4 linked regions of the Homo sapiens genome follow. The protein of the gene in region 1 purifies or fractionates together with the protein of each later gene. This does not show direct contact. Each region holds a gene or a part of one and is shown in the gene's direction. Other genes may lie near its edges.

Region 1 (5,656 bases):
ATGGAGGCATGAGGCAGCTCGGAGACATAGAGAATATATGGAACAACAGGAGGTAAGTGATTTCATAATCCCTCATTTGTGTGTGTATGTTTGTTTTTTCTGTTATTTGCTCCCTTGTTAAAAAATGTATAGCGCTCAAAACAGAAAGCTTTCATAGAAATCTTTTCTTTCTTCCTTTTTTTTTTTTTCAATGGTCTGAGATTCAAAAGTCCTAGTGCAATATCTGACATGCTTTGACTGGGATAACCCACTCTGGTGTTTGGCTGTTACATAACATTGCAAGTAGACACCAGATGTGTAATATATAGTTTGTTGGCTGCATTATTATGTCTGTCTGAAGCTTAAGGGAAAGATACAGCTACCGAATTTTTGCAAAGAAGAAGAGTGTACTCAGTAAAATAAGTGTCTCATCATTAAGTTTGAGAACAATCTTAATTCTTTAATAAAAGCTCCTAATTTTTCATTTAAATGTTACAATTTACTTTCTCCCAGTGAGTTGAATAAAGCCAAATAAGAATGTGGTAAACCATGTTTGATTTTTTTTAAGTATTGAGAGATTGAATTGTAATGAACATACTCTGAAAACTTGCCCAGTGGTTTTGATAATTTGTCTTTATTTGAGGAAGACGTATGGTCCAAAATGAGAATGGAAGTCCTACATTGTTTTTATATTTCTAGAACTTAATAGGATAATAATGAGAATAAATAATAATGAGAACAATAAGAAGAATAAAATAATAATAACTGAAGGATGAGATAAAAGCCCTACCTAAAATTATTTTGGTTGAACAGTAGCAAATGTTAGAGTATGTTCCACTGGCTACATTATTCTCTGAAGTAAGTTGATATTTTGCCTTCTTCCAAGGATATGTGTATAGTAGACTCTCCTATGCCACTGAAATTTTCAGTATTTACCTTAAAATTTTTTGTAATTTTAAGTTAACTATATTATGAATTTTTGCTTTTCCACTTTTCCTAAGACTTCTTAGATACTATACAATTGCACATGGTATATATTGGGCAAAACTATAAATAAAAATTAAATCCTGTCCTTATAACAGCACACACTGACATATGTATTTTGTTTTTAATCTTTTGCTTGAATCTGATGCATAGCAACAAATAGCGCTTTGGTTTTAAAATTTTTTTAATTTTTTTTTTCTTTAGAGATGAGTATTTGCCATGTTGTCCAGGCTGGTCTCAAACTCCTGGACTCAAGCAATCCACCTGCCTTGGCATCCCAAAGTGCTGGGATTACAGGTGTGAGCCACCATGCCTGGCCCGTTTTTTGGTTTTTTTAATTTTCTTTTCTTTCTTTTTTTTTTTTTTTTTGAGACAGAGTCTCACTCTGTTGCCAGAGTGCAGTGGCACTGTTGCGGGAAGTCAGGGACCCCAAACAGAGGGACCAGCTGAAGCCATGGCAGAAGAACATAAATTGTGAAGATTTCATGGACATTTATTAATTCCCCAAATTAATACTTTTATAATTTCTTATGCCTGTCTTTACTGCAGTCTCTGAACATAAATTGTGAAGATTTCATGGACACTTATCACTTCCCCAATCAATACCCTTGTGATTTCCTATGCCTGTCTTTAATCTCTTAATCCCGTCATCTTCATAAACTGAGGAGGATGTATGTTGCCTCAGGACCGTGTGATGATTGAGTTAACTGCACAAATTGTTTGTAGAGCATGTGTGTTTGAACAATATGAAATCTGGGCACCTTGAAAAAAGAACAGGATAACAGCAATGTTCAGGGAACAAGGGAGATAACCTTAAACTCTGGCTGCCTGTGAGCTGGGCGGAACAGAGCCATATTTCTCTTCTTTCAAAAGCAAATAGGAGAAATATCGCTGAATTCTTTTTCTCAGCAAGGAGCATCCCTGAGAAAGAGAATGCATCCCTGAGGGTAGGCCTCTGAAATGGCCGCTTTGGGGATGGCTGTCTTTTACAATCATAGATAAGGGATGAAATAAGCCCTGGTCTCCTGTAGTGCTCCCAGGCTTATTAGGACGAGGAAATTCCCGCCTAATAAATTTTGGTCAGACCAGTTGTCTGCTCTCAAACCCTGTCTCCTGATAAGATGTTATCAGTGACAATGCATGCCTGAAACTTCATTAGCAATTTTAATTTTGCCCCGTCCTGTGGCCTGTGATCTCGCCCTGCCTCCATTTGCCTTGTGATATTTTATTACCTTGTAAAGCATGTGATCTCTGTGACCCACACCCTATTCATACACTCCCTCCCCTTTTGAAAATCACTAATAAAAACTTGCTGGTTTTACGGCTCGGGGGCATCACGGAACCTGCCGACATGTGATGTCTCCCCTGCACACCCAGCTTTAAAATTTCTCTCTTTTGTACTCTTTCCCTTTATTTCTCAGACTGGCCGACACTTAGGGAATATAGAAAAGAACCTATGTGAAATATCGGGGATGAATTTCCCCCAATATCTGGCACCAGGCTGGAGTGCAGTGGCACAATCTCTGCTCACTATAACCTCCGCTTCCCAGGTTCAAGTGATCCTTCTGCCTCAGCCCCCCTAGTAGCTGGGATTACAGGCACATGCCACCATGCCCAGCTAATTTTTGTATTTAGTAGAGACAGGGTTTTGCCATGTTGGCCAGGCTGATCTTGAGCTCCTGACCTCTGGTGATCCATCTGCCTTGGCCTCCCAGAGTGATAGGATTACAGGCGTGAGCCACCACACCCAGCCTTAGATTTTCTTTTTACACCTAGTGGAATGGGAAACAAATCGTTTTGTTGTCGTTGTTGTTGTTGTTGATGGTTTGTTTTGAGGAAGGGTCTAACTCTGTCACCCAGCCTGCAATACGGTGGCACAATCATGGCTCACTCCAGCTTTGACCTCCCAGGCTCAAGCAATCTTCCCACCTCAGCCTCCCAGGTAGCTGGGACTGCAGGCATACACCACCACACCTGGCTATTTTTCAATATTTTTTGTAGAGACAGGGTATCACTATGTTACCCAGGCTGGTCTCGAACTTCTGGGCTCAAGCAATCCTCCTGCCTCAGCCTCCCAAAGTGTTGGGATTATAAGTATAAGCCACTGTGCTTGATGGAAAAAAATAGTTTTATAACAAGTACCTACATGTTATACAAAGGACTTTGACATGTGTCCATGTGATCTCTCTCTCTATATATTTTAAATTTTTTGTAGAGACGGGGTCTTGCTATGTTGCTCAGGCTGGTCTCAAACTCCTGGCCTCAAGCAATCCTCTCCCCTCAGCCTCCCAAAGTGCTGGGATTACAGGCATAAGCCACCATGCCTAGCTTGATTGTCACAAAATAATTTATCTTGCTAGAACTCTACATAGATTCAAGTTATTTCTAAAAATGTGTCTTAGCATTTTAAGCATATTTCTTACATTTTTGTTTTTTTATGTAACCTTCACATGTATTAAATTTTTGTTTCTTAAAGTTACAATTTATTTCTTAAATGTACATCTCTGTGTACAAAGTAAAAAATGTTAATTCTAATCAGTATGAAATCCAGATAGTGAAACACATACTTCCTCATAAATTTATGCTAGTTGCATAAGTTATTAAATCTTAATATTTAAAAATTCTATATGAATAGAATGATCAACATAATACTTTTATTTCTTTTTCCTTTCTCAACAAAAACTTATGTCTATGAGACTTTTCATAATGCCTAATTAGACTTCAGTCACCTGATGTTGAAAGTTGTGCCTGTCTGTACGTTGCTATAACTTCCTAAAGGTTAGAAGATGTAATGGCCTAGGGCTTTTTTCTATTAATTTTATAGAGTAATTGTCCTAACTCTTTAATCATGCAAAGTAATGGGAGGCAAGAATAAATAAAATTTGAGGGTAATTCAGAGTGGTTTATCTAACAGTTTCCACCATCTCCGTATTCCCTACTCCTCTCTATGCCCTGATTGACAGGGAATTACAGTTATCCCTCTTCTCAGTTCTCCACTGGCCCTTCAAAACCTAGGCAAAAAAAGGATGAGAAACACCCGTCAAGTAGAGGATCAACCTCTTAAAATTGAGGTTGGGCTATAAATGCAAATGGATGAAAATATTTGCAAAGTAGCTTCACATGCCTTTGAAAAACTATTTGAACTCTTTTTGTTCCAGATAAATGAGCCATCATTGTCATCGAAAAGGAAAATGGTAAGAATAAAGTTTACTTCATATTATGCTTTAGATTTGTTAATACTTTTCTCTTAGGTCTGTTTATCTACATAGTAGTATCGTACATCTGTGAAATGTAGCTATTGGCCAGGTGTGGTGGCTCACACCTGTAATCCCAGCACTTTGGGAGGCTGAGGAGGGCGGAGCACTTGAGACCAGAATTTCAAGACCAGCCTGGCCAAAATGGTGAAACCCTGTCTCTACCAAAAATACAAAAATTACCTGCACGTGGTGGCACACGCCTGTAATCCCAGCTACTCTGGAGGCTGAGGCACGAGAACCACTTGAATCTGGGAGGTGAAGGTTTCAGTGAGCCAAGATCACGTCACTGCACTCCAGCCTGGGTGACAGAGTGAGACTGTTTAAAAAAAGAAAAGAAAAGAAAGTGTAGCTATTACATGCAGCCATAAAAAATGATGAATTCATGTCCTTTGTAGGGACATGGATGAAATTGGAAATCATCATTCTCAGTAAACTATCGCAAGAACAAAAAACCAAACACCACATATTCTCACTCATAGGTGGGAATTGAACAATGAGATCACATGGACACAGGAAGGGGATTATCACACTCTGGGGACTGTGGTGGGGTCGGGGGAGCGGGGAGGGATAGCATTGGGAGATATACCTAATGCTAGATGACGAGTTAGTGGGTGCAGCGCACCAGCATGGCACATGTATACATATGTGACTAACCTGCACAATGTGCACATGTTCCCTAAAACTTAAAGTATAATAAAAAAATATATATATATTAAAAAAAAAAAAAGAAATTGTAGCTGTTACATCGAGTTCATATTAGGACTTTGAGCTTTTTTCCAGATACTAAAAGGACCAAATTAAACAATCATATCTATAGCTGCTTTTAATTTTGTTAGATGAAAATTTATGCAAGTAAACAAACCAACATATGTTTGAAATTTAATTATTTTTTAAATGAAAGTGATTCTCTGAAACTTTCTTCACTTGTATTTAAAGTTCTGTGCTGTTCTTTGTATCCTTCTCACCTTGCTTTCAGATGCCAAATTTTTTACTACACTCACAGGACAGTTAAAAAAGAAATTAATAATAATAATACTTTTTTTTTTTTTTTGAGATGGAGTCTCTGTCGCCCAGGCTGGAGTGCAGTGGCGCTATCTCGGCTCACTGCAAGCTCCGCCTCCCAGGTTCACACCATTCTCCTGCCTCAGCCTCCCGAGTAGCTGGGACTACAGGTGCCCACCACCGCGGCCGGCTAATTTTTTGTATTTTTAGTGGAGACGGGGTTTCACCATGTTAGCTAGTTTCACGAGGTCAGGATGTTCTCGATCTCCTGACCTCGTGATCCGCCCGCCTCGGCCTCCCAAAGTGCTGGGATTATGGGTGTGAGCCAGCATGCCCGGCCAATAATACTTTTTTTTAAAGATGCCAAATTTTGTAGTGTCAGGGAATTTCTATTCCACAATTTACCAACTGTGTGGCAGCAGACAAATTATTTA
Region 2 (3,500 bases), on another chromosome or scaffold:
GCTGGCACTATCTCCCCTCCATGTCCTCCTCGTCCAACAACCAACATTACAGCCCCACCCTCTCTGGTTACCACAACTCTGGATCTTCACATGCCCTTACTTTGAGGCTCCAAGTACTTGCACTCACTGCTTTGCTTCACAACTCTTACAAATAGACCGTAAATCAATCTGTGTGATCCATGAAATAAATCAACTAAGAGTAGCAATATTTTTTTCTTTAAATGCATGTAGTGCTGGCCTGTGCTTAGGTGTGTGTGCTCAAAAATTAATTTTACCTTCATTTGGATTTCTTTTCTTCCGTCTGAAGTATCCACATAATAATATTTCACAAAGATAAATCATGATTGGAGGTATAGGGAGGGTGAATGGTAAGTAGTCCCTCAAATGACTGTTAAAGGAATGTTAGTACCAGATGAATTGGATTTTTCTTAGGTTTAAATAGACTGAAGGGACTTGGGTTCTGAAGTAGTCCTATTGTGCCCAGCATGGAACAAATTGCAACCACTGTTTTCCATGAAAACACTCTTGCCAGACGCTAAGTAGTGTATTTTCTCTGACTGAATTGGCATGTCCTTGAGAACAGCAGAAAGACTAAATAATTTGTAAGTGAAGTTTGTCTTCAACTGGTAAGGTTCAGTAGTATTTGTCAATTGCCATACCCTCACTTGATATCTTGCTTACTGCTCCCAATCTCTTTGGCATTGAGTTTTTCTATTATTTTCTCCTCCTGTCAGACCCAGGTAGAGTTTTTCTGATTAAGTAATACCAGTTCATGTTAGTGTTTAGTGGGTGAGGCTATGGAAGGAGAACTTTAAGAAAAAGTGTGTTTCTTCAAACTTTCTAAAAAGTACTTATAGACAAAACAGGTATTTTAAGCTATGTCTGGCACATCTTAGATTCTCAATAAATATTTGTTGAAGTAATAAATGTAGGAAGGGAAGGAGCATCATGATGGGTCATTAGGGGAGATGTTCTGGGACAGACGACCATTTCTGATTACTTATTCAGCGTGGGCTTTGTGTAAATGCAAGCTCAGCTCTATTGGTCCCCCTCACAAGGTGGATGTAGTCAAAGTTCAATTCCCTCTCCTGTCTGCTTAGATCAGAGAGACACACTTGCAGTCATTTCATTCAGGTTTAGCACGGGAATGTGATCTTCCAGATTTCCTATCCTTAATTATTTACAGATCTTATTTTCTTAGATGTTGTTTGTTTAATGTCCTGTTTCATGTCTTTGTAGTGGAATAAATCCTTTCCCTGGGTTCTAGACCTGGTTCTGCCAATTGCTTGTCATGTGATGTTGGGTAAGTAATTTAACCTTTCTGAGCCTAGTATATTCATCTGTGTAGTGGGTACATAAAAAGAACCTCCAAATCCTGTCTTACCTTTTCTTCTTAAAATTAGGTTGGTGTGAGTCTCAAATAAAGAGATAACAATAAAAGTGTTTTGCAAACAATGTGTTTTTGAAATGTAAGTATTATTAATTAAGGAATTTCATAGATCGAGCACTAAAGTATTCATGGCTCTAAGCAAACAAGAAGTACTCTTGCTCTCTGTATAGAATACACACATTCCCCATTTCCACCTGATTCCCATACTCTACAGAGTAAATTTTTTGTTTGTTTGTTTTTTGAGATGGAGTCTTGCTGCCATCCAGACTGGAGTGCAGTGGTGTGATCTCGACTCACTGCAACCTCCGCCTCCCAGGTTCAAGCAATTCTCCTGTCTCAGCCTCTCAAGTAGCTGGGACTACAGTTGCATGCCACCACGCCTGGCTCACTTTTGAATTTTTAGTAGAGACAAGGTTTCACCATGTTGCCCAGGCTGGTCTTGAACTGCTGAGCTCAAGTGATCCACCCACCTCGGCCTCTCAAAGTGTTGGGATTACAGGCATGAGCCGGGCACGGCTCAGAGTAAATATTAACCATGCTAATGGATGGGAACATAGTATCTGTTTATTATTTCCTTTGAAAACTTCAGTGACAGAATTTAGATAAGCCAATATTCAAAGTGTTACAAGACCCAAGGATCACTTCAAATGCATTAGAAATACCCACTGTTTTTCTTTTTATCTTTTTCTGTTTTAGTCTTTTCCTCACATTTAGATCTCTTTTCTTCTCCATTTGCTAAGTTTGCTGCCTCCCCCTCTATACCCACCCCCACTTCACCTCCAAACTGGGTTCTCAGCACTAAGATGGCCAGGCATGCTGTGCTCACATCCATCACATGAGGGCCCAGTCAGGCAGAAGAGTGGAGAGAAAATGCAGGGCTGGTTGGGAGACTGAAAATGTAGATACAGTTTGGTTGGGGGAAGCACATTTCAAAGATGATCCCTTGATCACCATTTCCACAACCTGACTTCAGGGCTCCTCAATACAACAGGAATAAACCTTGATTAGAGAGGTGATATGTAATCCTAAACCTTTCCAAACTCAACTCTAAATGCCATAATCTTTTGAGCCCTCAAGATCTCCACAAAGGACATTATAGTTCTTCTGTGTCCCTGGGCATGACTGGGATAAATTACCACTTTAAAACAACAAAATTTAACAGATTCTCCTATAAGCACAGAATTCTACAAACCAAAGAAACTGAGTTTTTAAACATATGGATAACATTTAGAAATACTTTAAAGTATAATAACTGGATCAAGTTAGTCTAAGAAATCCTATTTTTCCTAGAAGCCAAAAGTTTAGCATAAAAAAATTAGTATTGTACATATTTTCCCAAAATACTTTTATACAAAGGGCTCATGTAGACTGCAATAGAAAGGTGTGTTAACTAGAAATTTGAAAATAAACTGGTGTCCAGAAGGAAATAATGATTTCTTTAATTATATTTATATTTGGTTAATGGTATCACCTTTAAACTTTCACTCTAGCTACATCCCTTTCTCCCTGTTTCTTTCTTCTTCTGCCTCAGAACACACTACTTCTATTATATATGCGTTTTTTGATTGGGAACAAGTATCCAAAACCAACTTTAAGAGTCTATAAAAGGAATTTATTGGAAAAAGAAAAAAAGCAGCGATCATATGAAATTAGTAAGTTGAACAACGAAGCCTATGGGAACCAGGGTAGAATTTCAATAACAGGAATTCATAAACTCTTTCTGGGGCCCTGCATCAAAAAAGACTCAGTTATTAATAATCCCAGCTACAATTCAAATTTTAAATGATGAGAGAGAAAGAGAGAGATAAGAGAGAGACAGACAAAGGGAGAGAGGGACAGAGGGAGAGAGACAGAGAGAGAGAGAATGAGGATGAATGAATTTTATTGGTCCTGCTTGGGTCACCTAGCAACTGCCACAGGGCCGATATCTCTGACTGGAAAAAGGGCTGGGTGACATAGGTTAGAGACAATTTTGGTAAGCCCACACTTGTAAATCTAGTGAGAGGGTAAGTTGGTTGAGAATTAGTCTCCTGCATATATACCTATATGTCCACATAGTCCACATGTGGGTTAGCTACCCGAGTCAGAAGGAACTTATCTCAAGTGTGGT
Region 3 (3,500 bases), on another chromosome or scaffold:
AATTCATAAAGAATTCCTATGAATCAATAAGAAAAAGGACAACACAACTTAAAAAATACTAATGGACAAAGGATCTGAATAGGAATTCATAATAAAAACCTGGATGGCTAATTAAAATATGAATATGTGCTCAACCCTACTTGAAATAAAGTAAATGCAAATTAAAACAAGATCCCAGCCATGCTGGCACATCCCTACAGTCCCAGCTACTCAGGAGGCTGAGGCAGGAGAATCCCTTGAGGCCAGGATTTCAAGGCTGCAGTGAGCTATGATCATACCACTGCACTCCAGCCCGGGTGACAGAGCAAGACCCCATCTCTTAAAAAGAAAAAAAAAGAGATCCCATTTCATATTCATCAGATTGGTAAAAATAAAAAAAAATCTGACAAAGCCAAGTCTTGATGAGATATGGAGTACCAGAAGCTAATCCCCACCGGGGTTGGTTTAAATAGGGACTAACTACTTTGGAGGACATGGAAGATACCTCAAGTTTAAATGCTTATAACCCAAGGCTCAGCAATATTCTAGTTAATACTCTAGAGGAATGCTTGCACAGTGCCCAAGAAGGTATTAAAAGAATGTTTATTCAGGTGTTATTTGTCATAGTGAAATACTGGAAGCACTGTAACTGTCCATTACAGAAGAACGGATAAAAACTATTGTGACTAATTTATATAACAGTATAGCATACGGCAGAGAAATGAGTGAACTAGAGCTACATGAATAAATCTCAAAACGAATGTTAAGACAAACAAGGCCGGTTGCGGTGGCTCACTCCTGTAATCCCAGTACTTTGGGAGGCTGAGGTGGGTGGATCACTTGAGGTCAGGAGTTTGTGACCAGCCTGGCCAATGTGGTGAAACCCTGTCTCTACTAAAAATACAAAAAATTAGCCAGGTGTGGTTCATCTCAAAAAAAAAAAAAAAGACAAATGATCTGAGACAAATATGGCAAATTATTAATCTTTTTAATGTGGGTAATGGGTCTGTATTGTATTGTCTGTTCCTTTTTTCTGTATGTTTGTAATATTTCATAATACATGTTTTAAAAACAATACAACTGTAATTTAAAAAATTATATAATATTTAAAGCACCTAGATCAGAGCCTTACACATGGAAGCCCTCAAATGTTAAGTACATTAGGAGGCTTTGATTGTACTTTCTCCTCTTATTTTGCAGTCCTGGTATGTTAGAGTAGAATACTGGAATGCAGAAAATGTTTCTCTTGGTCAGGTGCGGTGGCTCACACCTGTAATCCCAGCACTTTGGGAGGCTGAGGTGGGAGGATCACTTGAGCCAGGAGTTAAAGACCAGTCTGGGCAAGATGGCAAAACCCCATCTCTACAAAAAAATTAAAAAATTAGCCAGGTGTGGTGGCATGCACCTGTGGTCCTAGCTACTATGGTGGCTGAGGTGGGAGGATCTCTTGAGCCTAGGAGTTTGAGGTGAGCCATCATCGTGCCACTGCACTCCAGCCTGGGCCCACAAAGGGAGACCCCCATTTCTTAGAAAAAGAAAACATTCCTCCAAGAACTATATACAAAAACAATTAAGTTTGGTAAATAGGTATTTATAAATGTTTAAGTTATAGGATATAACTTTAGCTTTTGATCATATAGCTTCCCTTTATGATTGTGTCAAATCAAAGAATGTGTATCATAGAAAGAGGGATGGTTTGGAGTAAGATACTATAATTCCTATTTTTTTTTTTTTTTTTTTTTGAGACAGAGTCTCACTCTGTCGCCAGGCTGGAGTGCAGTGGCACGATCTCGGCTCACTGCAACCTCCGCCTCCCGGGTTCAAGCGATTCTCCTGCCTCAGCCTCCCGAGAAGCTAGGACTACAGGTGCACACCACCACGCCCAGCTAATTTTTGTATTTTTAGTAGAGACGGGTTTTCACCATGTTGGCCAGGATGGTCTCCATCTCTTGACCTCGTGATCCGCCCACCTCAGCCTCTCAAAGTGCTGGGATTACAGGCGTGAACCACCACTCCCGGCCAGATATTTAATTTTTAAACTGGGCTCTACCACCTAACTAGTTCTGCGGTCTCAGGCAAAGCCATTTTGAGCATCAAATTGTATCTGCAAAGTTAAGCTAATAAGGTCCTCCTTGGAAAAGTTTTGTCAGGATTAAATGGACTCATGTATATGAAGTTATATATATATATAAAACTCATGTAATATATATATTAAGTACAGAGCCTAGTACTTAATGGGTGCTCAGTAAATTGTAATACCAGTTATTATGACACAGATGCCTTCGCCCTAGTGACTCATAGTTAAGGGTCTCCTGCCTCATGAACAAAGCTTTATTGTTCATTTTGGAAAGTGCTTTGGGAAATCGAGCTTGCCATTAAGCTACTGGGCAGTCCTGCTTATTTAGCTTGGGGGTAGCTTCTGATGTTACTCATAGCCTTTGGTTTCTAGAACAGAACTCTGGGCACCTCCTGCCTGGCTGGGCCTCGCTGATGTGTGGTCCATGTTTCAGGCCTTCTCCACAGTAGGCACTCCTGACTACATTGCTCCTGAGGTGTTCATGCAGACCGGGTACAACAAGCTCTGTGATTGGTGGTCGCTTGGGGTGATCATGTATGAGATGCTCATCGGTAAGTTGCATGGTTTCAGAGGACTTTTTCTGTGCATCCATGACAGACTTTTACATTGATACCAGCCTCTGTTTCAATTGGCAGTGATCTAAGTGATTTCCCTACTTGTCTTTCAAAGTGAATTGTTTTAGACAGATGACACCTCTTTCAGTAAGATGTATCCCACTCCATTCTTGGGCTTACTGGCATCCTGCAATTGCTTTGCTGATCATTTTTTATGTTTTTCTTTCTCTTATACCTTCATCTTCTCCATCTAGAAGCTCTTTTAGTCACTAGCATTTATTAAATATCCGTTGTATGCAGAGCACTTCAACTGGGCATTGCCTCACTTTCCTAATTTGCCGCCCCCTTCCTCTGTCAAAGCCTTCAAATCATGGGACCCTCTGGCCTCTCTCCCTCTTATTGTATTGGTGTGTCTCTGTATTTATGGGACGCATCTGTGGGGGTGGTCATATGCCAGTGAGCACTAGATTAAGTATATCCTTGGTGGTTCCGGGTGAGTCTATCTGGCTGCTTTGGCTTCAGGAACATGGGAACGATGCCTGTGGAGGTGGGCGTACACCGTCTGGAGGGAAGATGGGGTGATAGGGTGTGTGCGTGTTTGTCTTCTTGCCTGTAGTTCTCAAAAAGAGGCATGGTGGTCATTTTTAAAATCTATGCTTTTTTCTTATTCAAGTTATTTGGTACTTTACCCATATAAGGGTATTTCTGGAATGATATTGTTTCATCCTTTCATTTCTTCTTTGGGCATGGTGATTCCCACACCTGCAACTCTATTTATGTCCTCCTTTCTTTTCCCAGCTCTACCTATTAGCTGACTTCCTAGTGGTACCAGAGGCATGATTTCACTTTGGGTCTGGGAGTTTGGGGGAAAATGAAAAATAGGTTTAGGT
Region 4 (3,500 bases), on another chromosome or scaffold:
TAAATTGTTATACAGCAATAGATAACTAATACAAATGGGTAAAGTTGCAGGAATAGCAGGCTTGCTGGTGAAGACCAGTTCAGTTTGGGGCATGTTAAGTTTGAGATGTCCATTAGATATCAAAGTGCACATGTCAAGTAGGCAATTGGATTTTATGTCTAGCATTAGTGAAAGGTCTGGTCTGGAAATGTAAATTTGGATGTTATCAGCATATAGATAGTATTTAAAGCTAGGAGACAGAATGAGAACATAATGAGAGTTGTTTGTGTGTATGTGTGTGTGCCTGTGAACATGTACTCTAAAATGTTAACAGTAGTAATTTGTGGGTAATGAAGTAATTTTTAATTTCAAAAATGTTTATATATTTTCTGATTTTCTACAATGACCAAGTGTTATTTAATTTAAAAAAAGAATTTCCAAAAATGGGTATTTATGTAAAAAGCACTGGTAGAGATGTTAAGATACAGGTTCTCGTAAGGTATGTAAATAGCTTAAGGTCTGCACTTTATTTCATATCCCATAGGGACCTCTGGAAAGTTTCTTGCTGTGTATATTTCTTCCACCTCAGAAATGAACAAAATAGTAATGGTTCTTATTTTATATCTAGAGAGTACTTTATTCGGGTGACAATATTATGTTATTTTAAAAAATGAAACTATTTCTACTTTCTTTTAGTTTTTCTATTGCCAAAATACAAGTGATTTTTAAATTTTATTATAAAAGTAATGCAAGTTTGCTACAACTACTTTTTTAAATTTTTTTTATTTTTATATTTTTTTACATTTTCCAGAGAAGGAAAAGCACACTAATGATCCAATTGTCCGTCTATATTCTGGTAAACTTGCTCACATTTTGATATATTTACTTCCCCTTATTTCTACTTAATTTTTAAAAACATGATTGTAATCATATTGCAGATATTCAACTTTTCCCACTTAGCATATGATACACTTTTCCCTGTTTTACTCAGACCTCACAACCATAATTTAATGTCAGTGCAATATTTCATAAAGTAACTGTGCCTTAGTTAATTTAGTAATTTCCTGATTGCTGTACATTTAGGTTGTTTCGCAATTTTCAACGTCAGTAATGTTTTAATGAACATTCTTGTGCAAAATCCTCTTCTGCATACACTAGCTTGCCAGAAGTAGAATTACTAGGTGAAAGAAATAAACATTTTTAAGACTTTAATACATAGGATATTGCTAAATTAATGTGATTTTAGAACATTCTGTCTACAACTTGAAATTTATATTGGTTTTAGGCTTGAAAATTGAGATTCAAACAATTTTCTTGGCAAATAAGAGAGCATACAAGCACTGCCTAATTTAAGAATGTTCCATTTGTATGCACCATTAATGTATCCCTATGGTGTACTATGTAATACACCTAACATCAGATATATGGTGTATAATAAATGTTGTATAATATTGAATCAAGCTAGTGTTTCTTATTTATATATAATTTCTCCACTCATAAATAGATAGCACACCTATTCCTTAATAGTGTTTTAGTTTATAAGGCATCATTAATTTTTACAATAATAATCACAGCATTTTCCAGAGCTGCCCAATTTAGTACTTAGCCAAAAATTACAGCAAAACATTGGGCGAAAATAATAGACATTATGTGTAATGTAAATTGGGTTCTATAATCTTTAATTCCTTTGGGGTGTCAGTTTTTATTTCATATATTCTTAACTCTGTTTACTATGTTGAGTTGTTAAGTGTTTATCTCCCTCACTAATCTCTATTTCCTTCTGGCAGATATAACATGTTTTGCCCATCTTTGCATACTCAATCTTACAGCACAGTTTATAGGTCATAAATGCTCAGAAGTATTAATTATTATCAAATTATTTCTAATTTTTGTCAAAGATTGGCATTTAAAAATCCCATAGAGCTTAATATGCTTCTAATATATGGAGGAAGACAAAAAAAGTGTTTATTGATTACTTATTTATGTGCCAGGGTCTAGGCTGTGTGCTTCATATACATTATTTCATTCTTCATATTCTATCTATGTAACATATATGTAATATATATAATAACTTCATATACATTATCATTTGTGATGACATCACAAAACTCCTATGTAATAGAAGTTATTATTTTCATTGTACATATGAGAAAATAGGCCCAGAGGAATCTGGTTAAAATGTAAATCAGATGATATCACTCCAAGGCCCAAAACTCTCTAGTGCTGTGCTGTTCAGTGCAATAGCCTTTAGTTATATGGTTATTGAGCGCTTGAAACGTGGTGTGTTCAAACTGAAATGTGCTGTAAGTGTAAAATACATGCTGCATTTCAAAGACTTAGTATGAAAAATAGAATCCAAAATATCTTAATTTTTTACTGTTGATTACATGTTGAAATGATATTTTAGGTAAGTTAAATAAAATATTAAAATTAATTTCACCTGTTCCTTTTTTCTTTGTAAAAAAGTTACTACAAAAAATTTGTGTAACGTAAATTTACATTTATATTACATTGCATTCCTACTGGAAGGCACTGCTCTAGTGGCTTTTCATGTCACGTAGAATGGTCTACAAGGCTATGTGCAGTCTGCTTTCTGTCACCTCTGATCTGATCTCATCCCCTACTCCTCCCCCGCACTCATTCCTCTCTGGCTACCCTGCCCTCCTTGTTCCTTAAGCACACCAGACTCCCATCCTGAGGGCCTTTGCCTTTGTTCCTGCTGCCTAGATTACTCTCCCTCCCACAGGATATCCACGCTGCTCACTCCTGCTCCTTCGTCAGGACTTCTTTGAAATGCCACTTTCTCAGTGAGGCCTCCTTTGGCTGTCTCTCCAAAATTAGAGGCTGTCTCAATCCTTGTGTTTCTCCTTAGCACTTAACACTATCCAACTTATCTCTGTTTTACTTATTATCTTATTGTCTCTTTCCTTCACTAAAATTTGAGCTCCATGAAGGCAGGATTTTTTTTTGAGTTTTAGTAATTATTCTCAGCATCTAATGGTGTTTAACATATATTAGGGCCTCATTAATATTTGTGAAATTGAATAGGAAACCATTGTAACCTATTTAATTGAATACATTCAGTTATGAGGCAGAGAGCTTTTGTGTTGAGGGACTATTAGTGGATATTAGTGAGGATGACATTCTATTAATAGGGGTTTTTGAGAAGGGCCAGAAACCAGTAAATTTTGTGAGAGGGCTTATTCCTCTTTGCATCAGCTTCCTTAATGTGTTCGCCTATAATGCTGTTGTGCATAAAAGCCATCATAGTCTTTGACATCCTTTTCACTAGCAAACTAAAAGGTAAGCCATGAGAGTCTATTGTGCCAGGAAAAACAACTCCTGGTAACCACTTTCATATATATGTCTTTCAGGGAATTCCACAGGCAGTTCCCAGAGAGAGTATGAATGCTAATTCTTTACCTCATACCTCACTGCTTTTCATCTGACATCACAGTGTGAAATAACCAAGGGGAGGATATGGTGGTAGTGATGGGTGCCATCTTTCTTGAATCTGAGCC

The links. The genes of interacting proteins can lie anywhere in the genome.
Region 2: the proteins of MARVELD2 (region 1) and GAP43 purify together in Homo sapiens (affinity purification with mass spectrometry; 2 studies listed by BioGRID and IntAct, with this or other methods). This does not show direct contact.
Region 3: the proteins of MARVELD2 (region 1) and STK38 purify together in Homo sapiens (affinity purification with mass spectrometry; 2 studies listed by BioGRID and IntAct, with this or other methods). This does not show direct contact.
Region 4: the proteins of MARVELD2 (region 1) and SLC36A4 fractionate together in Homo sapiens (co-fractionation; one large-scale study listed by BioGRID). This does not show direct contact.

What each region holds. Positions count from the first base shown.
Region 1 is NC_000005.10:69,420,480-69,426,135, forward strand, and holds part of MARVELD2 (MARVEL domain-containing protein 2), read left to right. Parts: coding exon 1-52; intron 53-4,121; coding exon 4,122-4,157; intron 4,158-5,656. UniProt on the Homo sapiens protein: Plays a role in the formation of tricellular tight junctions and of epithelial barriers.
Region 2 is NC_000003.12:115,630,010-115,633,509, forward strand, and holds part of GAP43 (neuromodulin), read left to right. Parts: intron 1-3,500. UniProt on the Homo sapiens protein: This protein is associated with nerve growth. It is a major component of the motile 'growth cones' that form the tips of elongating axons. Plays a role in axonal and dendritic filopodia induction.
Region 3 is NC_000006.12:36,498,980-36,502,479, reverse strand, and holds part of STK38 (serine/threonine-protein kinase 38), read left to right. Parts: intron 1-2,489; coding exon 2,490-2,607; intron 2,608-3,500. UniProt on the Homo sapiens protein: Serine/threonine-protein kinase that acts as a negative regulator of MAP3K1/2 signaling. Converts MAP3K2 from its phosphorylated form to its non-phosphorylated form and inhibits autophosphorylation of MAP3K2.
Region 4 is NC_000011.10:93,191,492-93,194,991, reverse strand, and holds part of SLC36A4 (neutral amino acid uniporter 4), read left to right. Parts: intron 1-3,500.